Linked DNA regions of Homo sapiens. The protein of the gene in region 3 interacts with the protein of the main gene of each other region in a biochemical or structural test. Each region holds a gene or a part of one and is shown on either strand. Other genes may lie near its edges. The genes, in order: SIN3A, ESR1, RLIM, POLI, LMO4, SMAD7 and UBE2D1.

Region 1 (3,500 bases), on a different chromosome or scaffold from region 3:
GTGCCTGTAATCCCAGCTACTTGGGAGGCTGAGGCAGGAGAATTGCTTGAACCCAGGAGGCGGAGGCTGCAGTGTGCCGAGATTGTGCTACTGCACTCCAGCCTGGGCAACAGAATGAGACTCTGTCTCAAAAAAAAAAAAAACAAATTGTGGCCAAGTATCTTTGAGTCTAAAACTAAATGGCTTTGGAATTTCAGAGTTCGTGTGTTAATTTTAAAATGCGTAGATGATCTGTTTTCCTGTTTAGAGAAAACCTAGTAGAAAGTGAAATTTTGAGTGAGGTGGCTCATGCCTGTAATCCCAGCACTTTGGGAGGCCAAGGTGGGCGGATCACCTGAGGTCAGGAGTTCGAGACCAGCCTGGCCAACATGGTGAAACCCCACCTGTCCTAAAAATACAAAAATTAGCCGGGTATGGTGGCGCATGCCTGTAATCCCAGCTACTTGGGAGGCTGAGGCAGGAGAATCACTTGAACTCGGGAGGTGGAGGTTGCAGTGAGCCAAGACCCCAAGATTGCACCATTGCAGTCCAGCCTGGGCAACAGAGTGAGACTCCGTCTCAAAAGAAAAAAAAACATGAAATTTTTTCTTAACAGGGTGTTTGTTAAGCTTACAGTTTATCACTTTTCTTTTTGTTTTTTATCAGCATCGACACCCCAGGAGTGATTAGTCGTGTGTCCCAGCTATTCAAAGGCCACCCCGATCTGATAATGGGATTCAACACCTTCTTGCCCCCTGGCTACAAAATTGAGGTGCAAACCAATGACATGGTGAATGTGACAACTCCTGGCCAGGTTCATCAGATTCCCACCCATGGCATCCAGCCACAGCCTCAACCACCACCCCAACATCCTTCCCAGCCTTCAGCCCAGTCAGCCCCAGCTCCTGCCCAGCCAGCTCCTCAGCCCCCACCTGCCAAAGTCAGCAAGGTGAGCACTTGGAAAATATTGCATCAATATGAATGCATCCCTAGAGAGCACCTTCCTTTGATGTTTCCCCTTTATATAAGACTTAGATACTGAGAAACAAAGTTACAAAGATTTCGTCATAGAAAAATGCTGTATGAAAACTTCACTATGACATGGTTCACATTTACACATCACTTACTTAGGTATCTATTTAAATCAACACAGCAACAACTTTCAAGGTCTTTCTTTTTACAGTTTCTGCTTATAAAACCATGAACATCCCAACAGGTGGTGACTTTGTGTAGTAGTAGTTGACAGCACAGATAGAAACCATCGTCTTATCCTGGTCAAATTGTGCTGCTGCCCACATGGTTATTTTATGAAAGTTATTTCACTAACTAGATTATATCAAGCTAAGTAGAAGATCTAATGAATAGTGATAGTGATGGTGATGAAGATGGGGTGTTCTTGGTCTAGAACCACACTGTCTGACACAGTAGCCACTAGCCACATAGGACTATTTAAATTAAATTCAGTTTTTCATTTGCACTAGCTTTCAAGTGCTCAGTAACCTCATGTGGCTGGTGGCTATGTATAAGACAGTGCAAATAAAGGACATTTCCATCATCTCAGTTCTACAGGACAGAGTTGGCGTAGAAGACTTTTTTATGTGGAGCTACTGCAACAGTTGTCTTGTTGTTGACATCAAAAGGCTATGTAGAATGAGATTTTTTCTATGTGTACTTGTTGAGCTACTAAGCTAAAACATTGCATATGAAAAATTCTTCCCTGTAATTGGAGATGGCTCCAGTTTTAAGGTTTTATTTAGAAAATGTGAGACTGAAATATTTGTATCAGCATGTTTGAACCGCCTACAACTCCCACTGCTGCCCAGTATGATTTGTGTTGGACTAAAATGACCTGGCCTGAGTGAGTAAATAAAGGATATACGTTGACACCTTGTTTCTCTTTAGTTTGAACTTTCCTTGTATCAACTCATCTATGCATCTGAAGAGAATAAAGATTTCTTTTCTTTCTAGCCCTCCCAACTGCAAGCACATACTCCGGCCAGTCAGCAGACTCCCCCACTTCCACCGTATGCATCCCCACGTTCTCCGCCGGTCCAGCCTCACACACCAGTGACAATCTCGTTGGGAACGGCCCCATCCTTGCAGAACAATCAACCTGTGGAGTTTAATCATGCCATCAACTATGTTAATAAGATCAAGAACAGATTTCAGGGCCAACCAGACATCTACAAAGCATTCCTGGAGATTTTGCACACATATCAGGTAAGGAGTGCCCATTCAGCCTGTCTTAACCAGGTCACCCTCTTAGGGCATCTAGTCCAATAACAAGTAACCATTATTGTGTCCATTAATTCATACTGGAAATTAACCAGTTAGAAACTATCATGCATGTTTTTAAAGCCAGTTTGTTTGTTTGTTTGTTTTTCGAGACGGAGTCTTGCACTGTCACCCAGGCTGGAGTGTAGTGGCACGATCTCAGCTCACTGCAGTCTCCGCCTCCCGGGCTCAAGTGATACTCCTGCCTTAGCCTCCCTAGTAGCTGGGATTACAGGCTCCGCCCACCACGCCCAGCTAATTTTTTGTATTGTTAGTAGAAATGGGATTTCACTATGTTGGCTAGGCTGGTCTCGAACTCCTGACCTTGTGATCTGCCCACCTTGGCCTCCCAAAGTGCTGGGATTGCAGGCGTGAGCCACCGCCCCCATGCTATAAAGCCAGTTTTATTTGCCTGACTTGATTGCCCTGCAACATTCAGTCAGGATTTTTTTTTTTTTTTTTGAGACAGAGTTTTGCTCTTTTTGCCTAGGCTGGAGTGCAATAGTGCAGTGTCGGCTCACTGCAGCCTCTACCTCCCGGGTTCAAGTGATTTCTTGTATTTTTAGTAGAGACGGGGTTTCAACATGTTGGCCAGGCTGGTCTCAGGTGATCCACCCGCCATGGCCTCCCAAAGTGCTGGGATTGCAGGCATGAGCCACCGTGCCCGGCCTCAGTCAGGATTGTTAGTCACTGTCCCATGAAATGAAACTCAGTTTTATCTGGGACAGTTAGATGGTGATTTATATAGTCTAGTTAATGTACAGTAGGAGGAGGAGAAATTTCTAAGGTTTTGTCAGTTGGTAGTGGTCCCCTGGGCATTAATATTTATTGCCCTAGGCCGGGCATGGTGTCTCACGCCTGTAATCCCAGTACTTTGGGAGGCCGAGACAAGTGCACTCCAGCCTGAGCAACAAGAGTGAAACTCCGTCTCAAAAATATTTACTACCCTAGTTTTGAAAGGAATTGTCATCCACCATCTTCAACTTTTTTTTTTTCTCAACTTGAAAGTCTGTGGTCAGAACGGGTGCTAAGAACATAGACTTTCTTCTTACATGCAGCCTAAATAGATAACAGTGATTCCAGAAAGCGTGCAAAGATGAGTGACTCAAAACAGTAGCCCAAATGATCTCTTTTCATTTGCAATTCCTCAGAAAGAGCAGAGAAATGCCAAGGAAGCTGGAGGAAACTACACTCCAGCATTGACAGAGCAGGAGGTGTATGCCCAGGTTGCTCGTCTCTTTAAAAAC
Region 2 (3,500 bases), on a different chromosome or scaffold from region 3:
ATTTCTTTTATGGCCCTGAAAGCAAAAGACAATGTTCTCTTTTAGTTTCCTGCAATTAAATGATGTTAGAAATAGTCATCTTCACATTGGCGTACTTCCTCTTTCTTCTGTAGGTCTTTTAGAATTTTGAGTCCATTCTCATATTTTCTTGTTTCATTTGCTTTATTTTCTAATACATAGAAGTTTAAACTCCCTTTAAAGAGTTTTTGGCCTCTTTTACCCTATTAAGCTTTCTTTTTTCTTTTCTGTTTTAGTTGTTCCATCTGTGTATTCTCAGATATTTTTCTTTCACCTTTTCTGGTTTATTTCTTTATTGACCTGTCTCATCTGTTATTTTAATGAAATTTGGAACAGGGCTAAACAGAGTTCCTACCTCAGCCAGTATAAGAATATACCGTAATAACTCAGAGTGGTATTAACTAGATTAAAAGTTTCAAAAAGTGATGTTTTTCTTGTCTCTGAGGATAGAAACTTCAACAAAATAAAGAAGAAATTTTCAATTAGTAGAATTTCTTTGAAAGTTTGTTCATTCATTCATTTGGCTACCTTATTCCAAATTGAGTCATTCATTGAGGGCTTAGACTATATAAAGTGTGGTTTTGTTTTCCCAGCAGTTCATGCAACAGCATTGCACCTAGCAGCTGGGAAGTCTTATAGCATGAATAGGTGAGATTCTAATACCAGAATCTCCTGCATGTGTAAACTAACAGTGTAGTCTTGACTGTTGTCTCCCAGTAAACTTGGTTTCAGGAGTTTTAGATCCATGTGAACGTGTACAAGGCATTTTTGCTAACTGTAACTTCCCACTTAATCAACAAAAACAAAAACACTCATTTCTGAACATTCAGTGCATTCATGATTAATCTTAATTACACCACAAAGGTATTTTTCAATGGTGATTTTGCGGGAGTGGGGTAACAGTTTCGAAAGCAACATTGTCAGAAACATAGTTGATTTTAAAGGTTCTTTCTGGTGACTTTGACTTCTGCTTTTTTAGAAGACCTTACACAGAGTTGTATTTATTTCTCCTGGAATATTTCAAGCAATTCAGAGTGAAAGGGTATACATTCCAATTTGCGTATGAGATAAAATTTAGTTACATTGAGAAGCTATTTTCTTTAGTTACAGGGAAAAAATTGTAGGGCTTTTGGAAGCCTCTTTGATTTCTAATAGGAGGAATCCCTGAGCACTGGTCCAAACAGAAATCATCTCTTCTTCATTGCTGTATTTCCCTCAAGCTCTTAGCAAAGTGCATGGCACGTGAAAGCCCGGAGAAGCTGTTGGTTGAAAGAATGGATGGTGGTGGGCAGGAAGCATCAGGGACATGGTTTGCTTCAGTCTATTGGCTGGGAGAAAGGCCATTTAGGAAGGGATCCTTAGATGCCACTGGAAGAATGTGGGAAGTTTGTGAATCTCTCTTTCTCAGGAACAAAAGTAGAAAAAGGACTCCACACAGCATTCCAAGTACAGTCGGCCCTCATTATTCATGGATTCTGTATTTGCAAATTCGCTGACTTACTGACGTTTATTTGTAACCTTCGAGTCAACACTCACGGTGCTTTCTCAGTCCTTTGCAGACGTGTGGAATGGCAAAAAAATTTGAGTTATATGACGTATATGTTCCCAGCTGAGGCTGAGCAAGGCTCACTTCTCCTTGCAGCCCTCAGACTATAAACAAGTGTCCCTCTTGCTATCTACTTCGTGTTATGATTTTTGCATTTTCATAATCCCTGTTGATGATTTTGCTGTTTAAAATGGCCCCTAAGCATGGTCCTGAAGTACTGTCTAGGGATTCTAAGACAAGGCTCTGACGTGTCTTAAGAGAAAATACGTGTTTGATAAGCTTTATTCAGGCATGAGTTACAATGCTGTTGGCCATGAGTTCAATGATGGTGAATCAACAGGATATATTAAATACAGTGTTTTTGAACAGAAAAACATATAAAACAAGGTTATGTATTAATGAGTTGGCAAAAATGCTGTGACCAAAGGCTCCCAGGAACCTACCCTATTTTCCCCTCAATGCAATGGTTCAGTATTTGCTAATTCAGTGTTTGAGGTGACTTTATAGAACATGAGTACCATGAATAATGAGAATCGATTCTGTATAATAGAGTGATGAAAGCACAGGTCTGGGAGCCAGCAGCTATATTTCTATTCTGGCGTGACTCCTGTGTAGTTGTCATCACTGGCAAATTGCTTAACTGTGTGCCTCAGTTTCCTAATCTGTAAAAGCTACATCGTTTGGATGATGTGAGGATTAAACAAATTCATAGATGTCTAGGGCTTATAACATTCCTGGCACATAACAAGTCATTATTTTTTATTACTACTTCGGAAGGGAATTGAGTACTATACCCTGAAGAAGGTGAGTATGGGAATTCTCTACGGGTCTGGAATGTCCCTATATTTGTTTATTTTGCCTTCAAGTGACTAACTTTAATACCCTATTGTGATTAGAAGTTAAACTTCTGCAACCAAAAGGAAGCAGGAAGCTAGTATTTCTTGAAGTGCTTATTACATGCCAGGTACTGTGCTACAAAAACAAAACAAAACAACTGTAAAAAAAACTTCAAATTTGGCTGCGTGCAGCTGCTCATGCCTGTCATCCCAGCACTTTGAGGAACTGAAGGGAGGATTGCTTGAGTCCAGGAGTTCCAGACCAGCCTGGGCAACACAGTGAGACCCTGTCTCTACAAAAAAACAAAAACAAAAACAAAGGCACTCCAAATCAGTAAAAATTAATCAATCAATAAAAAGAGTGAGGGGCATTAAGTATTGTGGACTGAAGCAATCCCAGAGAGGGAATTAATTGAAGCTGAGGTAAGCAGCTTATGGAGAAGCTATGATGTACAGAGGGCAAGGAAGGAATTTTTCTGTAATTTGGAAAAATGGGAACTGTGAGAAAGAAGGAGTTGGAAGCTCATACTTAGGGAGCATCTACAAGGACGTCTTTTTCACGTTGGTTGGAATATCCAAATCAAGGATTATTTCAGAATCACCCAGATGATTAAAAAACTACTGAGATCCAGGTTGTATTTCAGCAGTTCTGACAATTGCTCTGGGTCGAAGCTTGAATCAGTAGTTAAGAAAAACAACAAACAAAACAAATTTTGGGGCTTTTCTCACTGATTTACAGTTAAAGCTCATTTACTCTTCCTATGACTTTAGATGGAGGATATTTCCAAGTCTTCAGGATGGAGACATGGAGGGAAGTGAGACTAGTGATGTGCCTCAAGGTTTTGCTGTTGTTCTAACCATGAGGAGCACTATTCAAACCCAGGTCTGCTAGATTTCCAAGTCTTCATTTCCTTGGGCCTCTTGGATTTCAGAAGCAGAGGGTAAAAGGAGTGCTGGGGAGAAAGATCACAGTAGCTTTCAATTCTACTCCTCAGCTTTCCAAAATAAGTTTCAAGACTGGCCGTTGCATTTGATATGGAATAAATACAAAGAAGGTAGATTGAAGGGTATGAAGATGCAGATTTTTGATACCAGATATG
Region 3 (3,500 bases):
TCCAACTAGGTCTTTTTCCATTCCATATATATTTTTACCATTCCAGTAGTAACATATCTTATTATGAGATTCTGCTTCAGGTTTTGCTGAATTAGTTTTCTCAACTTTGAAAATATTCTCACCTATGATTATTTCATGTAGACTACACATAGGGGCTACTTCTGCAGTTCAAACTCCTTGAATAATCAACACTTGGCTCTTTGAATAAACAATAACTTAAGTAGTATCAGTTACATTTGTCAACAAATCAAGAGCCAAAGAGAAAACCACTCCATCATTTACCTTATTTTTCAGTTGATTAGTGACATTGCTTTTCAATATTCCCAGCTTTTTGGACCACTATACTTACCAAAAGTCCAATATTATGTTTATTTTCTCTGGACACATTTCTTCAGCTTCTGCACTCAAACATAATTTCACTAACTCACCATCAATAAACAGCTTTCCTCGTTTAGCCAATAAATGAGCCCCTGGGAAATTTACTTTGATTGAAGCCTCATTTTTATTTTTGTGAAGAAATATTTTGTGATGAGATTTCACTTTAAATTTTCTAACTTTTTGAACTGTAGTTTTCCTGTGAATTGGGAATATTGTCACTAGTGTTTAATAGTGTCAGTATATATTGTATTTAGTATATAGTATTTTTTGCATAATCATGCATTCTTTGCCATCTAATCTGATTTTTGAAAAACCCATCCTCTGCTGCACCTTTAAGCGTGACATTCAGAGTCCACTTTTCTCTTTGTTTGAGATGATGAGTGTATACTCAGTTTTTTTTAATGTCCAGTGTGAAGGCACTTGAAATGCTGTCATTATAGCTACATCACTGCAACTTAAGAGTGCACAGAGCAGCAGTCCAAAGCAATGGGAGTGCCACATACAGTCTGTCACAACTGCTCAACTCTGCCATTATAGCACAGAAGCAGCCATAGATAACATGTAAATGAATGTGTATGGCTGCGTTCCAATAAAACTTTATGAACACTAAAATGTGAATTTCATTGCATTTTCATATGTCACAAGATAGTCTCTAAAAACCATTCTTAGGTTGCAAGGAGAATAAAAATATGCAGCACGAGGCTGGGTGCGGTGGCTCATGCCTGTAATCCCAGCACTTTGGGAGGCTGAGGAGGGCAGGTCACTTGAGCTCAGGAGGTTGAGACCAGATTGGGCCAACATGGTGAAACCCTGTCTCTACTAAAAATACAAAAATTAGCTGGGCGTGGTGGCAGGTGCCTGTCGTCCCAGCTACTTCGGGAGGCTGAGGCAGAGAATCACTTGAACCCAGGAGGTGGAGGTTGCAGTGAGCTGAGATCGCACCACTACACTCTAGCCTGGTTGAGAGAGCGAGACTCCATCTCAAAAAACAAAAAATACCACAGTATGGCTGGATTTGGCCCAAGGGCTTTAGTTCGCCAACCCTGTCTGGTTCAAGGGCTGTAGTTTGCCAACCCTTGACCTACTCTTAATATAACAGTGCTTTTCAGGAGTTTTTGTTAGGAAATTTCATTTGAGGTCTGAAAATCCATCTCTAGACCTACATTCTGGATTTTCACATAATTAAAACTTGTATAGAATACATAGTGACCTTTATTTTCAAGATTAGTCTCTTTTCTCTTTTCAGGTATTTTCCACTTGTTCATCAATATGGAAAACTCAGATTCCAATGACAAAGGAAGTGGTGATCAGTCTGCAGCACAGCGCAGAAGTCAGATGGACCGATTGGATCGAGAAGAAGCTTTCTATCAATTTGTAAATAACCTGAGTGAAGAAGATTATAGGCTTATGAGAGATAACAATTTGCTAGGCACCCCAGGTATGCTTACATATATTTAAGGATTTATAAGTGTAAGTTGCTGGTTTAAAAAAAAATGCTTGAACCTGTTTTAAAAATCCATTTCTTTAGCCCTTATGAAATATTATTTAACATAGGGGATATGGAATGACATTTATTGCTGTATTTATTACCTGATTATATTTACTGATGTTTGGAATTACACTATATCAGAGAGATTTTTAACTTATGAATTATGAATTTTTAGCGAACTGAATTGAAAAGAATGGAGCTAAATCTTTTTTTTCTTAGTTAGCTTTATCTAACTTACTAGATAAGAATCCGAGTGTGGAATAGCTAATGGGAACTTAGTTTTTAGGAAAGACTTATTCTGTTATCTCTGATTTTCTGAATATGTCCCAGTTGTAATCCTCCAGAGCTAGCCTTGGGTAACATAGCAATTAGAAGTTTGTGCTTAATTATCTTTTACCCCACTAAGTCCCATTTGATCCTAGTTAAAAGTCAGTATCTGTCTTCCTCTTCATTTCTGTTTAATTCTACTTACCTTTGAGTAATTGCTTAGATTTTAAAAGGTAAGGTTTTAGCATGACTTTTAAGAGAGGGAGTGTGTTTTTAGCCAACAATACCAGGCTTGAATCAGAATGCTTTAGGTGGAGTTCTGGCCCTGCTGTTTGGTGTGGCTCCTGGCAAGCCAGTCTGTCGCTCAGTCTGTTTCTTAATTTTAAAATGCAGATAACAATATCCTCCTCTCAAAGCTGCAATTCTTAAAAATTACTTACTTATTTATTTTTGAGACAGGGTCTCATGTTGCCCAGGCTGGACTCAAGGGATTCTTCCGCCTGAGTCTCCCAACGAGCTGGCACTACAGATGTGGTACCACTGTGCGCCCAGCTTAGAATTGCCTTTGCCTTTTTTTTTTTTTTTTTTTTTTTAAGCAGAGTCTTGCACTTTCGCCCAGGCTGGAGTGCAGTGGTGCAGTCTCTGCTCACTGCAACCTCTGCCTCCTGGGCTCAAGCGATTCTCCTGCCTCAGTCTCCTAAGCAGCTGGGATTACAGGCACCTGCCACCATGTCTGGCTAATTTTTGTATTTTTAGTAGAGATGGGGTTTCATCATGTTGGCCAGGCTGGTCTCGAACTCCTGACCTCCGGTGATCCACCCGCCTCGGCCTCCCAAAGTGCTGGGAGTACAGGCGTGAGCCAAAGTTAGATGTTATATGCAAAAGAACTTTGTAAATTGCTTTTAATATGTTTCCAAAGAAGTGAATTTTTCCCAGGACCTACCTACTCCTTGGTTTTTCTTTTTGGTTTGAAAAAGTTTTCTCTTTTAAAAATATGATTTTTTTTCTAATCATCTTGTGTCAGATTACTGTGAGTCACTGATAAAGTATTTGATTGTCATACCCCTAATGTCATCTTTGCCCTGTGGTGTTAAATTTCAGGTGAAAGTACTGAGGAAGAGTTGCTGAGACGACTACAGCAAATTAAAGAAGGCCCACCACCGCAAAACTCAGATGAAAATAGAGGTATGTTTTGGTTTTGGTGGGGAGGTGGATAGACGATGGGATGATAGGAACTTTGTAATAGTAAATGTCAGCCAAAGATTATCCAGATTTGGCACAAATTAATTTGGTGCTAAGTAACTGCTCATAAAAAGAAAACTGACATTTTCTTGATACTTAGAATGTCAGCATTTTTTTTCTACCT
Region 4 (3,500 bases), on a different chromosome or scaffold from region 3:
AATCCCAGCACTTTGGGAGGCCAAGGCAAGCGGATCATCTGAGATTAGGAGTTCAAGACCAGCCTGGCCAACATGGTGAAACCCCGTCTCTACTAAAAATAAAAAAATTAGCCGGGTGTAGTGGCACATGCCTGTAGTCCCAGCTAGTCGGGAGGCTGAAGCAGGAGAATTGCTTGAACCCAGGAGGTGGAGGTTGCAGTGAGCCGAGATCACATCACTGCACTCCGGCCTGGGCGACAGAGTGAGACTCTGTCTCAAAAAAAAAAAAAAAAAAAGAAAAGACATAATGGGTATTTTTTGTACTATTCTGTCAACTTTTCTGTAGGTTTACAAAAAATTTTAATAAAATCTGTATGAAAGAGGAAGAATTAATCAATAATTCCACATTTCCCTTTTTGGGATATAAAACCTAGCTCTCTATAATGTACTCTAACCAATAAAATCCAAGTTTGCCTTAAAAATTATACAGAAATATATTTGAAATATTCTTGCTAGTTAGCCCTTTTAAGTTACAAATGAGCACAAGTACAAAAGATACAGGAAAAGCTCCATGTATTCTAGAAACTGTGGTTCTACTGCTTTTCTTCTGTGGAGAACTATTCTGTAGACCGATGTCTAGTTCTCAAAAAAGAGGATAAGAGGAAATGCATGGGGAGGCTTAAGAGCAAAAGGGTCAGACAAGTCTTACACAACAGCAGAGTACCTTGTCTTGTATGTGGTATGATAGGGGAGTCACCAGCAGAGTCATAAGATGTCTGAAAGCCTAATCAGATATTCACTGGTGCTTACTGCAGCTTATTTTCAAATGTAAATATCACTGGAAACACCATCAGTCATTCATATCTCAATATATGAAGGAGACAAACCATTCTGCTTTCTTGCTAACTTTGACAAAGATTATTTGAACAGATTAAATAGGAGCTTGGAGAAGATTCTAGCACATGGCAGATAGCCCTGGACAACATTCCAAAAGTGCTAACTTGGGAATTCAGAGAGCAACATGAGGGTCTCAGGGGAATCGAAGTGAACATGTAAAACACACATCAAAGGGGAATCGAAGGGAACATGTAAAAGACACATCAAAGGCAAATCTAGCCTACCTGAAAACTCTGCTTAGAGATTGTTTTAGAATAATAAAAAATTATTCCAAAAAGCATATTAAGAAGCCAACTCTTACAACTTAAGAATGACCTACAGAGGTATGGCTTTTTGTTTCCTTAAGAGATGGGATCTTGCTCTGTTGCCTAGGCTGGACTCAAACTCCTGGGTTCAAGCAATCTTCTCAGCTCAGTCTCCCAAACAGCTGGGACTACAGGGGCGCTCCACTGTGCCCAGCTGGGTATGGCTTTCTAAAATGGGAACCAATGCACTGTGTCAGACGAAAACTCTGCACAGATGAATGCTCTGTGCAGATGAACAGGAACAATGCTCTGTGCAAATGAAAAGTGCACAGAGCATTGAGCTACATGTCATCAAAATCTTAACACTTATTATGGAATAGCAGCACCTAATTTTAGCTGTCCTAGACAGATTACTGACTAAATATAACTATACCTCCAACAAAAGTCATGAATCTTTCAGAATCACACAGCGAACTCACTGAACATTAAGAAATGTATGTACTTTTGGTTAGTAGGTAGAATGAATAAGAACCCACTCACACTGATTATTGTATACATGACCCGACACAGTCACCGCAGAAAGTTCATCACTTTGCAGCTGCTGTAGTCTCTTCTCAACCATTTCTGTTAGATCCACAAAATTTTCATCAAATCCAAGTCTCTCAACAACTGGACTAAATTCTTCCAGTAATTCTAAATTGAAATAATATTGGAGCACAAATGTAAATGAAGTTATAACTAGGATAAATTTAACTATCTAGTGCTTAAAAATTTATCAAATTTATTGTTAAAGGTTTTATATACATTCATAGTTCCATAATATCTTTAATAAAGCCCTCAGTTAATTGACGTTTTTTCTGTACCACATCTTGTATAAAGGCAATATTTTCAAAAAAGTCTAAAAATGACATTCCTAGGGCAGTTATTCATGGCAATATATCTAGCTCAATCTTCTACACCTATAATTTTTATATCTGTAGTACATTAAATATCAATGCTTATAGTAAATTGGTGACCTTGAAGAAATGTGTCAAAGAATAAACTATAGGCTGCTCAGGAAAGTTAAAAACAAGTAATAGTATATTTTAGCTATATTTTCTCCAAGAGTTTAAAAGAGGCAAAACAAAATAATATTTAAAATGTCCAATTATTACTGAATAAAACAGAAAGTCAGTCAACTTTCAAAATATACTATAACGTGGTATTTTTATTAGCCATTCCCAAGAATATTCCTTAGGACAGAGAGGCAGAGATGAACCACAACTTACAGGTATTCAAATGCCCAGCGTCTAGCACAATATCTAGTCCTCAAGTCAAATGTTTACTAGATTAAGCTGAACCAAAATTCAAAATAAATTCAAAAAAACTATCAATTTTCATATATTAACATTGAGACTAATAACTTTAAAATCATTGAGAAAGTTTTTCACTTCCCTCTGAATCACTTTCTACTGACACCAGCTGGATAAGAGAAAACAAATGCAAGTCTCTTAGTATACAAAAATGCATAGATTCTTAAGGTCATATAATCTGAAGCTCAGAAATAAAAGGACTATCTCATTCCACATAGATCATGTTTTTTCACAAACACCAAAGGTGCTTTTTTGTTTTGTTGATGTCAACATTGACAATGTGAGGGGAAACCAATAAAGGTAACAATGTGACATGGCAAACACCAAAAATCACTCCTGAGAAAACTATTACCTAGAGAAAACTATTACCTCCTTTCAGGACAGACTGACAATATGTCTAATCAAAGAAAATGATTGTTTTGCATTTCCTTCATCAATTTCGGCAATTTATTTTCAAAAGTATATACCTGATATGCAAAGTAACATGTAGAAAACAAGAGTTTATCAAAAGAATACTACATAAGAAAAATAAAGGATAAGGCTTTAAGCACTAAATAGAAAAGCAAGTTAAATACAGAATCATGCACGAAGCTGGTGGATCACTAAATATTGACTGATTTTAGGTCACAGGACAAATCCCTAATTATCCCGTCCCTGAAGGTTTTTGTTGTTGCTGTAGTTTTAATGAGACAGGGTCTCACTGTTGCCCAGGCTGGAGTGGAGTAGCACACCACAGCTCAGTACAGCCTTGACCTCCTGGGCCCAAGCAATCCTCCTACCTCGGCCTCTGGGACTGCAGGCACATGCTACCAGCTAACTTTTTTTTTTTTTAACTTTTGTAGAGACAGGGTCTTGCTATGTTATATTGCCCAGACTGACCTCAAATGATACCCCACCACAGCCTCCCAAAGTGTTGGGATTACAGGCATAAGCCACCATGCCCAGCCTCCATTCCTGAAGTTAACCTCTTTCTTGGTATCAACTTCATAAGCAAGATACATTTATTAAACATATAATTATATAGGGC
Region 5 (3,500 bases), on a different chromosome or scaffold from region 3:
GCAGATAGAGGGAAGTTGGAGCAAGCATTTCATTATCAAGAGAGAGAGAAGGTTAGGATGAAAGAGATGAGCAGAGGCAAATCTTAAGTGTTGACACCATGATTGAAAAGGTTAACCCATACACATTATATATCAACCTGGATAGCAGAGAGTTTCTAATGGAAAGTCTGCACTGATGGAGGTTTACGGGAGTTTCAATACACTGAGCATGATGTCTTCTTAGATATACAATCAAATCCTCTTAACCCTTTTGATGACTCATATCTGAAGATATGATTAAAGTACAAAAGAGTTCTTCATATAATTTCAAGGACACAATGCATTTAAACTCCAGTCATGAATTGTATCTTTTTTTTTTTTATGATGAACCTAGTAATCTGATAAAATGTGTGTAGAACAGAATTGTATTTGCTAGAGGTGTAAGTCAATATTTTGATTAAATCTGGGGCATCCTCTGCGGTAGGCAGAAGTTTGTTGTCCCACAAAAAGGATTTTTCCCAGATTATGTAAATCACTCAGAAAATCTGAGGCTTGAGCCTAAGAATTCAGCCTGTCAAATGCATTCCAAAGGGATGCCCAGAGTCTGGGGGTGTTTTTCTTTCTTTTTCTTTGGTTTAGGATTATTCACTGGTGTCAACCGTTATTCTTTGTTTCAGGTTATTTGGAAATAGCGGTGCTTGCAGCGCTTGCGGACAGTCGATTCCTGCGAGTGAACTCGTCATGAGGGCGCAAGGCAATGTGTATCATCTTAAGGTAGTATTTGCATCTCTCTTTTTTTTTTAAAAAAAAAATCATACCTTTCCTACCTACATGGGGGCAAAGCATTTCTCCTTGGTATGAACTGTTTTCTCAAGCTGCAGACACTTGAAGGAATGATTGAAATTGTAGCATGGCAGTGATGGTTACACATCCACATGCACAGACCACGCTTCCCCTATGCCACAGACAGAAGTACACATGTATTTGGATTTGTCCCCATTTAGCCTGGTCCAGTTGATAGCAATTTGGCTTACTGTTTTCTGGAGATCTGTCAAAGGAAGAAAAAACGCTAAACCCTAAGTGTCTCTGTACTTGACAGATACCTGCTTAATAACAGGTTATAAACTTGTGACCAAAAAAAGACTTAATTTTTACCTTGTTTTCAGTGGGTTTGTTTTTCCCTTTCAGTGTTTTACATGCTCTACCTGCCGGAATCGCCTGGTCCCGGGAGATCGGTTTCACTACATCAATGGCAGTTTATTTTGTGAACATGATAGACCTACAGCTCTCATCAATGGCCATTTGAATTCACTTCAGAGCAATCCACTACTGCCAGACCAGAAGGTGAATACCCAGCAATTACTAATAAGCTTTATTAGAGCAAGTTGGAAGGTTCAACCTCTTAACCTAGCAAGAGAGTTTTCTTGGGTGGTTGTATTTTTGCATGCCCTTTTAAAGAAATGTAGATTACTAGTTGTACATAGAGTGTTCAGAAGTAGGATAGCTGATTAAATTGTGAATCCTTTCTAGTTAAAAAAAAAATCCTGACTTTGTTATATCTGTAGCTTCACTCACGTTGAACATAAGATTATCACATGCAAAAGCAAACAAAATGTAAAGCTTCCATATAACTGGTTATTTATTCCATTTGACAATTTTGAAATTCAGAAACATGATGTGATAGGTTATTGTGGAAGAAAAATTAGAACATTTATGGTAGGAAAAGAGAATAAAGATCTTTGTTATGAAAGAATGATTTCTGCGTTAGGAATAGCAATCTGGACACCTGCCTTCCAAACCCAATTTACAATTCATTTACTTTTTAGAAGAGTAATTTTACAAAACATTCTGTAACTTCATAAGAGGGCATTTTTGTTCATTGGCGGTACCATAACATTTGAATAAGTTATGGCTTTTAAAACCAAGTTCTTGTTCTTGCTAACCCGCTTAGTGCCATTAATAGTGCCATTAGAAATTATGTATCTTGATTCTTGATCCACAACTTGAAAATCCTTGTACCAGAATTAAAAATTAGGAAATTATACAAGTATACAAATCATGTAGTATTAGAAGATATTCCAGAGGGAAAATTGGTGATCAACAGTTGTCCAGCACCCCCAGTACTGGATAGTTTTAGATCTATTTTAATCTCCTTAATAAGTCCTATAGCTATGCAAGTGAGTGCATTTTGATAACTGCTGTGCCTAATTTGTAACAATTACTGTCAACCTTCAGTTAAGAGACTGTTCATTCCACACCGGCCCAGAAAAGAGTGAAATGTATGACTCGTGTGCATAATTTTATTCACATCATATTTCATACTGATTATGTATTGATGACATTGATTCATTTACTCTTTACAGCGCCACTTGCATGGATATTAAATCTTATTGACCACAGATGAATTTTAATTTCAGATTGGTGATAGATTTTTCCATCAGCTCTGATAGTATGTTTGACTTTTTCATCATTAACCCAGGCAATCACACAGCACTGAGTTATTGCATTGAAACAAAAAGTGCACACTTCACTTGGTAATTCTTTATGGATTTACAATAGGAACTTCATTAATGTCTGTTGTAAGGATCACAAAAAAAACAACATTTATCTGCAAATAGGAATTTAGCAAGCTTCAAAAATCTCGGGGAAAAAAATAGACTTTTTTGTCTTCTGTAATGCATTTTCTTAGTGCGGTGGTGGAGGTGGGGGTTTGACAAATATTTGAAAACTTTTAACCATTAAAATTATGCTGCCATATTTTGATGCTTATATTTGCCCTTTTCCCTTGCTCAAGTTTATGAGGTAATTTTAAATGTATGTTCTGTTTCTTAGTGTTAATTACATGACATTATGTGCACTTTAATTTACTAATATGGGGAGCTACATAGAATAACCATTTTAAGAATAAAAGTTGAACTTTTTAATTGCAAACTAACCAGTCACTGCTGATGAGGTATTTCAAGCTTCTTCAAGGAGTGCCAAGACATATAAATGCTTAAAGATTTTTGTGATTTGGATTCTAATGAAGTGAATCTGCAGGGCAGAGTTGAGAACAATGAATGAGCAACATAAATATTTGGAGATACCTATTCAGAATAGAGGTAAAGCTGTTTGTAGTTACACTTGGTAGCAAAAAAGAAAAAATATGCTAGAAATAAAATGGTAGACCTTCTCTCCACTCCTTCTGATGTAAAAGCTTAATTTTTCCCCGAGTTAGAGCTTCACTTTGTTGCTGGTTTTATACCATTTCTTTCTCTGACTTAGCAAAGTACTATACAAAAAAATGATTGTTGCAGTTCACCAGCATGCATGGTGAGAATGAAAGGATGTAGAGATGAGATGGAAAATGTTGCTAGATTGTGAAGCACTGAATACAGGCAATAGCAGTGTTAGGTAGGGACCAAGTATAAAGCACACCTAAGAAATATGAGCAGGATTTCATACCATCTTTTATAGTATAAGATGGCATAAATTTAGAGGTGTTAGGGAGGAGAACTGCAGAAAAACCAGGTTTACCTGTT
Region 6 (3,500 bases), on a different chromosome or scaffold from region 3:
AAGACTTTGGTCTGGAGTAGACACTAGAACTTTTCAGAAGTATAGGCAACAGCCAGTAAAAGGGGGGGGGGGGTAGGTTCCTCCTGCTCCAGTCACCTGCAAGTCAGTCCTCTCCCGGGGTTTTCTCAGTATTCGCCATAGGGACTATCAAAGTTTGAAGCATAGCTCTGCCTGTCTGCTGCTTTGTCACTGGCTGGCATGAAGCCATGGCAGAAGCCCATTTGAGACTGGCACCAGCCCTGTTGTGGTTGTCTGCATTCAACTTCTGGCCGGCAGCAGCACAGGGGTCCATCCTCTGGACATCACAGTGCTGGGGACAGGGTCAGCAAAATGAACTTGGGGGTGACAACAAGGACAAACCCAAATTCCTGGAGCTCCCTCTTACAGTAGGAGATAGATCTGTTTGCTAAAAGTACAGGTTGTATGTAACCTTGGTTTTTGTGCCTGTATACTGGTGCCTGAAAAAAACATTAATACTTGGGACATTTTTATTTTGCCAAGGTTCTGGGAGAAGGAAAAGTGAAGGGTTGGGCACCATTTAGCTCCTGGAATTCTGCAAGTCCTTCCGCCTCCTGCGTTTTGGCTGTTGGGCCTTTCCCCCCACTAATTAAAAGTTTTGCTGGGGCGTTGTCATAAATTAAATACTTTAATGAACGTGTAACCGAAGCCCATACTCTGCAGCCAGTCCTCCTGGGACTCTACCAGCTCCCTCAAGTTGGGAAGGCGTTCCTGCTTGCCTGGTGCCGGTCTAATAAGTGGCCCGCAAAGCATGTGATATTTTGCTTTCGATTTACAAAACACCAGATAAATGGTTATTAATAAGGAGATACCCAGCTCTCTGTATTTGTAACAAACGTTAACTGGAATTACCAAGCTCTGTTTTCCTAAAGACTGTAACTTGACTGGGTTTTGGCTTAAAGAATCAAGAATTCTTTTATGAAGTTCATTTTCCAAGGGGCCACCTCTGACCTGTTTTTTTTGTCCTTCCATATTCTTCAAATTTGGAGGTTTTCCTTAAAAGAGAGAGAACAGTGACCTTAGCCCCAGGGATAAAGACCAGCAGGGGTAAATGTTCCCAGAAACCTCCAAAAACCATAGAAAAGAAAGGCCATGTTCCCTTGGGTTTCCTGCAGAGACACTGGGATAAATCTGTTCTCAGGATTTAAGCAGTCATTCTGCCAGGCCAGGGCCTCATTTTCGGTGAGTGGAGTGATATATTTATTCATTAGCAAGTGTTGACATTAGGTAGCAAAATGTGTGTAAACAGAGAAGCCACAAAGACAGGAATGTGCCATTTCCAAGGGGGAGAAAAGTTCTCCAGATCAGCCAATAGGAAGTGATTAACCTGCCAATCGGAAACTAAGACAGCTGGTTACTCACCCAAAACGTTTTGTTGAAAATAGAACAAAAAAAGAAATGAGAAAAGGCGCTGCTGTGTAAGAATTTAGCATCAGTAATAGACAAAGCCCCCACGAAGGGAATTGTCCTGCCACATTGGAGGACAGCCAGGTCTGGAGCTGGAGCACACCCCCCCCGCCCCCCTCACAGGTCTGGGGCTGGTTTTGCCAGCTGCTGTGGCCGGGGGCATTGAGGTCAGACCACAGATGGGCGCTGACCCAGGTCTTCATCCCCATTTTGCGTATGGGAGAATGTTTGGCCCGGGAATCTACATGGACCATTTACATTCTTCAGTTTCTATGTCCCTTAGGTTGAATTTTTGGTCTTGGGTTACTAGATGAAACAGGCACAAAGTTTTACAGTGGACAACTGTTAAAATCTTAACCAGTTGCACAACTAAAGGAATACATCCTGTGAAGTCTCCATCTTAGGAAAAGGTGGTGGGAATGGGGCTGGGGCCTGGTACCCTGCAGCCTTTGGAGACACAGAGGGCTCAAAGCTAGGAACTCCATTTTGCTATAATTTAAGCCACTCCACTCAGCATCTGGGAGGCCTGGACTTTAGACACCTAGGTACTGTGTGGTCCAACCAGGAGAGCCTTCTTTGAAAGAGTGTTCACATGACTGAACCTAGGGGAGGCCAGTTGTGACTTGTGGCTGTCAGAAGTCAGAAAGACACCCCCACCTCCACATCCCACAAGAAGTCAGAATTTGCTGTTTAAAGCTGGATCTCGGGGATAGCTGTGTGGGCTCTGCTTCCCGTGTTTCATTGTATCTGATGGTCTGAAAGGTTTGAGGAATGGCTGGCCTTGGGGGGTTGCTGGGTGAGCTCTTGAGGGACCCAGGTGGCCAGTATCCATGGGCAGATCCAGCCTGCAAATCCAGATCGGAAGTCTGGTGTCTTGACCTGAGATCTGGCACTGCGTTTCTCTCTTAACCGAGGTCCCTCTTAACTTTTCTAGGCCTCTTTTAAAATCAGCATGATGAAAGAGATTAGGTCATTCATTCATTTATTCATTCATTGGTTCAGTCATTCATTTTACAGGCATGATGATGTGCCTACCTAGAAATTTGAGGATTCCGATGCAGTGCTGTGTTCTTTTTTTTTCCGAGACAGTCTCATTCTGTGCCCAGGCTGGAGTGCAGTGGCCCGATCTCGGCTCACTGCAAGCTCCACCTCCTGGGTTCACACCATTGTCCTGCCTCAGCCTCCCGAGCAGCTGGGACTACAGGTGCCCGTCACCATGCCCAGCTAATTTTTTGTATTTTTAGTAGAGACGGGGTTTCACCGAGTTAGCCAGGATGGTCTCGATCTCCTGACCTCGTGTGATCTGCCCACCTCTGCTTCCCAAAGTGCTGGGATTACAGGCGTGAGCCACTGCACCTGGCAGTGCTGTGTTCTTTTATAACCAGGGTTCATTTGAGTTCTGGGTTGGTTGAACTACCTGGGGCAGAGCTGGGACCCTTGGGGTACAGTGGTGAGTAGGGGCTCCTCTGTCTTTAACAGTACTTAGGAAGCTCAGAACGCAGTTGCTGAGACTATCGTGGGACTCCCAGCTCCTTTACCTTGTACTCATTCTCAATAGTTCGCTCCTTGGCTGCTCCCCAGGGTTGGGTTTTCAAAGACTCTGTTGGAGCTGCTCGGAGAAAGGAATGAGTCTTTTTCTCTCGCAGAACCTAGTGCTTACCAAGTGCTTGATAACACTTAGTGTTGCGTGAGTCAGGAGTGGCCTAGAGCTTCTGTCTGCCAGCCAGCCTGGGCTCTGGGGAACAGGCGACACAGGCCTAAGGTGAGACCCTGACTTCAGAGATCTGTCTATGCGGAGCTTTTCTGTGGGTGAGAGATGGAGGTATGGCTCCTTTAACCTTGAGGCCAGTCTGGATGGCCTGGCCACCTCCAGGAAAGAGGGTAGGGACTCCATAGCCTGCCTGGGGAGTGAGAGCCATGGGATAGGGCTGGACTCTTGGGAATAGCCCAGCTCACTGGGTGGCCCTTTGAGCTAGTCAGTGACGCCTCAGTTTACCTGGCTGCCTATGGAACAGGTATACTTTGCTTCTTCACAGGGGTGGTAGGGAGGCTTAATTAACGTTTGTAAATCCCTC
Region 7 (3,500 bases), on a different chromosome or scaffold from region 3:
GAACCTTCAAAATACTCTCATTTAAAGGCCCACCCTTACCTTTTGAATTATGGCCTTTCACAAATATTTTTTAGGTGAATCACATGTAACAAATGGTTATAATCATGTTATTCATAACTCCCTTACTTTAGTAATGTAAATATTTACAGTACTCTGGACCATATCTGTCATTGTAATTTATCTTCATTTTCTATATTTCTTACAATTTTTGATAAACTAGAATTGTTTAAACAATATATATAGTAAGAATTATTATACAGGAAAATCCTCTAGCATATATGTGGAAACTTAACGAGAAAGTAATGAGTCTTGGTGTTATTACCAGAATGCTAATATAACATGATATATTTAATTAAATATGAAAGAATTAAAATAGAATTGTAGGTATAGTTTGCTAGCATTTTCTTTTTTTAAAATTTTTTTGCTTGTAATGTTATATTTTCTAATGGCTATAAAGAAACATGGTCAAATTTAAATTTCTCTAGTAAAGTTGATTCCCAATTTGATAGTAGCATGAATATATAATTTTGTTTTGGATTTTTTTGGGTTCTCTACATTATTTTATAAATAATTACTAAACGAAGATTTGGCACATAAATTGTGTAGCAGGGTCCTTAGCATTTTCTTTTCACGACAGCCTCTTCAGTTCATCTCCATTCTTGGTCATCAAGTGAACATCAGAACTTAAGTTTTACTATCCTCAACCCTTTTTCAAAAAAAATACTGATTACGGCTGCAGAAAATGATCTTTTCCCACAGCAGTCGTGTGTATACTGATCTTTAACAATTTGTACTCATAACCAGATTTGTTTGGACAAGTCACAGCACTGTGTGTGTCCTGTTTTTGTTTTGTTTTAAATTTTATGATGTCGGCATAGTTGTTGGAAAATCCTCCTTCGTACCTGCAGAGAAACCTGTTCTCAAAGTAAATGATTTGAACTTATGACAAAATGGTTGCATTTTTTTCATATTGGTAATATTTAATGAAATTATTTTAAACATGATGGCATTTTTTTCAAACTGATAATATTTGGGGGAAATAATTTTGTTGTTATAAATAAATATAGTAATCAAATGCTGATGCAAATCTTTTGTAATTTCAGCCTGATAGCGCATATCAAGGTGGAGTCTTCTTTCTCACTGTACATTTTCCGACAGATTATCCTTTTAAACCACCAAAGGTATTTTTATTTTTATGATTGATGTGACTCCCATGTAAGAGATTTTATTCTTTATCTAGAGCTCATTTGATTATCTAGAGCTCATTTGATATGTCAAAGACTGTGGGGAGGTTAGCATTTTCAAACTGTTTTGTAAAAACTACTGAATCTAAAATCTGATTTCTTATTGAAATACTGTATTAAGTCTATAAAACAAAAGTCAGTACGTGTCATGCTATAAATTAAATTCCTTGCTTTTCTTTTCCTTCTTATTGGATATGTGTAGTTTGGGACGTTTTTATGATTAAGAGTCAGACTTTTCTATTCATGGGATTATCCTTACAAAGTTGATCATTCTTTCTCTGTTTTTTTTTTTTAAGTATTCAATAAACATTCACCGAGTACCTACTGTGTTCTTCTACACTGGGGAATCCGAAAGTAAATATGAAGCAGTCCCTTAATTTAGTATGGTAGGAGAGAGAAACACATGTTAGATTTAGATTTGCTCTAAAGAGGAAACAAATGATGGGGATATCAGGGAGGGGAAAAGTGGGCAGATTTTGTCACTCAGGATATAATTATTTTAAATAGTTAAAAACAGATTAACATTGTATTTATGAAATGGTATGACAACTCTTGTGGAAAATTAGGATTCTTAATGGATTTCTTAGCTGAGACGCCTCAACTTTGCCCTGAAACAGCGTCAGCACCCTGGTTTTAGATCCAAATGTTACTTCCAGGTATCACCAATAATCAAATTAAGAAAAGGATTACTTCTACATATGATGGAAGCCATGGTTAATTACTTTAGATGCTGCTCAACCAGTCATACCGGCTACTAGAGACTTATTTATTACACTGTCCAAAATACTCTTCAGTTCCTTTGAGGGCAAAAGAAGGAAGCTGACTTGTTTGTGTTCACATTCTCACTAGCTAGAACTGTGTGTAGCACAAAGTAGATAATTATTTGATTTGTGTTGATGACTTTTCTCCTCTAAAGTTATGTAAAGTTGAGGATATTTTACCCTAGAGCAAATTGGTTCTGTTTTATTCATAGTTGATTCAAAGGTGATTGTCATATTTTGTTGTTTTGTTTTATGTTTAGATTGCTTTCACAACAAAAATTTACCATCCAAACATAAACAGTAATGGAAGTATTTGTCTCGATATTCTGAGGTCACAATGGTCACCAGCTCTGACTGTATCAAAAGGTAATTTCATTGATCAGGTTTGAAACAGTTGATAACAGTGAGACAGGAAAAATACAGCAGAATTACCTATGGACTAAAGTTTTAAAACAACAATCAACTGTGCTTTCTCCTGTTTTGATTTTGTTTTGCTCTCTTTGCTCTTATGTTACTATGGCTTTTGGCAGTTAGCTTTGGTTGAGGGGAGTGTGGATGGACAAATCTAAATGATGAAATGAGAAAAAACCTTAAAATATCAGAGCTAGAAATTTGGGGATAAACCTATTGATATTTTATCCTTTTAGCTTGGGTGTTGTCTTTTAAAAAAGAGAGAGTGCCCGGGCACTGTGGCTCATGCCTGTTATTCTAACACTTTGGAAGGCTGAAGTGGAGGATTGCTTGAGCCCGAGTTCGAGACCGGCCTGGGCAACATAGGAGACCCCATCTCTGCAAAAGAAGAGAGAGAATAAGAGATAGTAAAAGGAAGATTTTGGGACTGGTTGTCCCATTCATTAAATGGAAATGTTGACAATAATAAAGCTTTACAGCTGTTTTACTTCATCCAAGAATAAAATACCAGATTTGATTGATAAATGATTTAAGATGAAAGACATTTCACACTGTAGGATAATGCAGTACATATAGCATGTTAGTCTAAACTTCGAATAATCAGTAGCATCATTATAGTGACTGACACAAGATCTGTGCTGATTCTCAACTTTTACAGGGGTATAGCTGTTCTTTGCTGGATTATCAGGTGTATACATAGGCATCTCAAGCCATTTTATTTCATTAGCCACTGCTACTTACTGTGCTAGCACTCTTAATTTATGTCTTGTTTCTCTGAAAGAAGAGAACCTGACAGTTGGAAAATACTGTTTAGGTTAGAAGTAGCTGCACTGAAGCAACCATCAAGTTTTCCGTTTTTATAAAATTGAAGAAAATGTTTCTCTTGAAGGGATTTATGGAAGCAATCTGTACTCATTTTTTATTTTTAATAATTGCTACTTGAATATACAGCATGTTTTTAAAAGTAATAAGGTTTATAGGAAGCAGGGTCCACAGCCGTAGCTCTTTCAAATATTAGATAAATAATAGCTCTTTCAGTTCAATTATTTATGAACGATAGTTTTTCTGACCTAAGATGCTCATC

Evidence for each region.
Region 1: the proteins of RLIM (region 3) and SIN3A form a complex in vitro, tested with the Homo sapiens proteins (one study listed by BioGRID).
Region 2: the proteins of RLIM (region 3) and ESR1 form a complex in vitro, tested with the Homo sapiens proteins (one study listed by BioGRID).
Region 4: the proteins of RLIM (region 3) and POLI form a complex in vitro, tested with the Homo sapiens proteins (one large-scale study listed by BioGRID).
Region 5: of the proteins of RLIM (region 3) and LMO4, one has a biochemical effect on the other in vitro, tested with the Homo sapiens proteins (one study listed by BioGRID).
Region 6: of the proteins of RLIM (region 3) and SMAD7, one has a biochemical effect on the other in vitro, tested with the Homo sapiens proteins (one study listed by BioGRID).
Region 7: the proteins of RLIM (region 3) and UBE2D1 form a complex in vitro, tested with the Homo sapiens proteins (5 studies listed by BioGRID).

What each region holds. Positions count from the first base shown.
Region 1 is NC_000015.10:75,410,191-75,413,690, reverse strand, and holds part of SIN3A (paired amphipathic helix protein Sin3a), read left to right. Parts: intron 1-645; coding exon 646-928; intron 929-1,947; coding exon 1,948-2,199; intron 2,200-3,404; coding exon 3,405-3,500. UniProt on the Homo sapiens protein: Acts as a transcriptional repressor. Corepressor for REST. Interacts with MXI1 to repress MYC responsive genes and antagonize MYC oncogenic activities. Also interacts with MXD1-MAX heterodimers to repress transcription by tethering SIN3A to DNA.
Region 2 is NC_000006.12:151,814,182-151,817,681, forward strand, and holds part of ESR1 (estrogen receptor), read left to right. Parts: intron 1-3,500.
Region 3 is NC_000023.11:74,594,125-74,597,624, reverse strand, and holds part of RLIM (E3 ubiquitin-protein ligase RLIM), read left to right. Parts: intron 1-1,624; 5' UTR 1,625-1,647; coding exon 1,648-1,816; intron 1,817-3,235; coding exon 3,236-3,319; intron 3,320-3,500. UniProt on the Homo sapiens protein: E3 ubiquitin-protein ligase.
Region 4 is NC_000018.10:54,276,017-54,279,516, reverse strand, and holds part of POLI (DNA polymerase iota isoform a (long)), read right to left. Parts: intron 1,815-3,500; coding exon 1,662-1,814; intron 1-1,661. UniProt on the Homo sapiens protein: Error-prone DNA polymerase specifically involved in DNA repair. Plays an important role in translesion synthesis, where the normal high-fidelity DNA polymerases cannot proceed and DNA synthesis stalls. Favors Hoogsteen base-pairing in the active site.
Region 5 is NC_000001.11:87,338,880-87,342,379, forward strand, and holds part of LMO4 (LIM domain transcription factor LMO4), read left to right. Parts: intron 1-656; coding exon 657-753; intron 754-1,167; coding exon 1,168-1,323; intron 1,324-3,500. UniProt on the Homo sapiens protein: Transcription cofactor. Plays a role in establishing motor neuron identity, in concert with MNX1, acting, at least in part, to disrupt LDB1-LHX3 complexes thereby negatively modulating interneuron genes in motor neurons.
Region 6 is NC_000018.10:48,944,466-48,947,965, reverse strand, and holds part of SMAD7 (mothers against decapentaplegic homolog 7), read left to right. Parts: intron 1-3,500. UniProt on the Homo sapiens protein: Antagonist of signaling by TGF-beta (transforming growth factor) type 1 receptor superfamily members; has been shown to inhibit TGF-beta (Transforming growth factor) and activin signaling by associating with their receptors thus preventing SMAD2 access.
Region 7 is NC_000010.11:58,362,506-58,366,005, forward strand, and holds part of UBE2D1 (ubiquitin-conjugating enzyme E2 D1), read left to right. Parts: intron 1-1,103; coding exon 1,104-1,181; intron 1,182-2,265; coding exon 2,266-2,371; intron 2,372-3,500.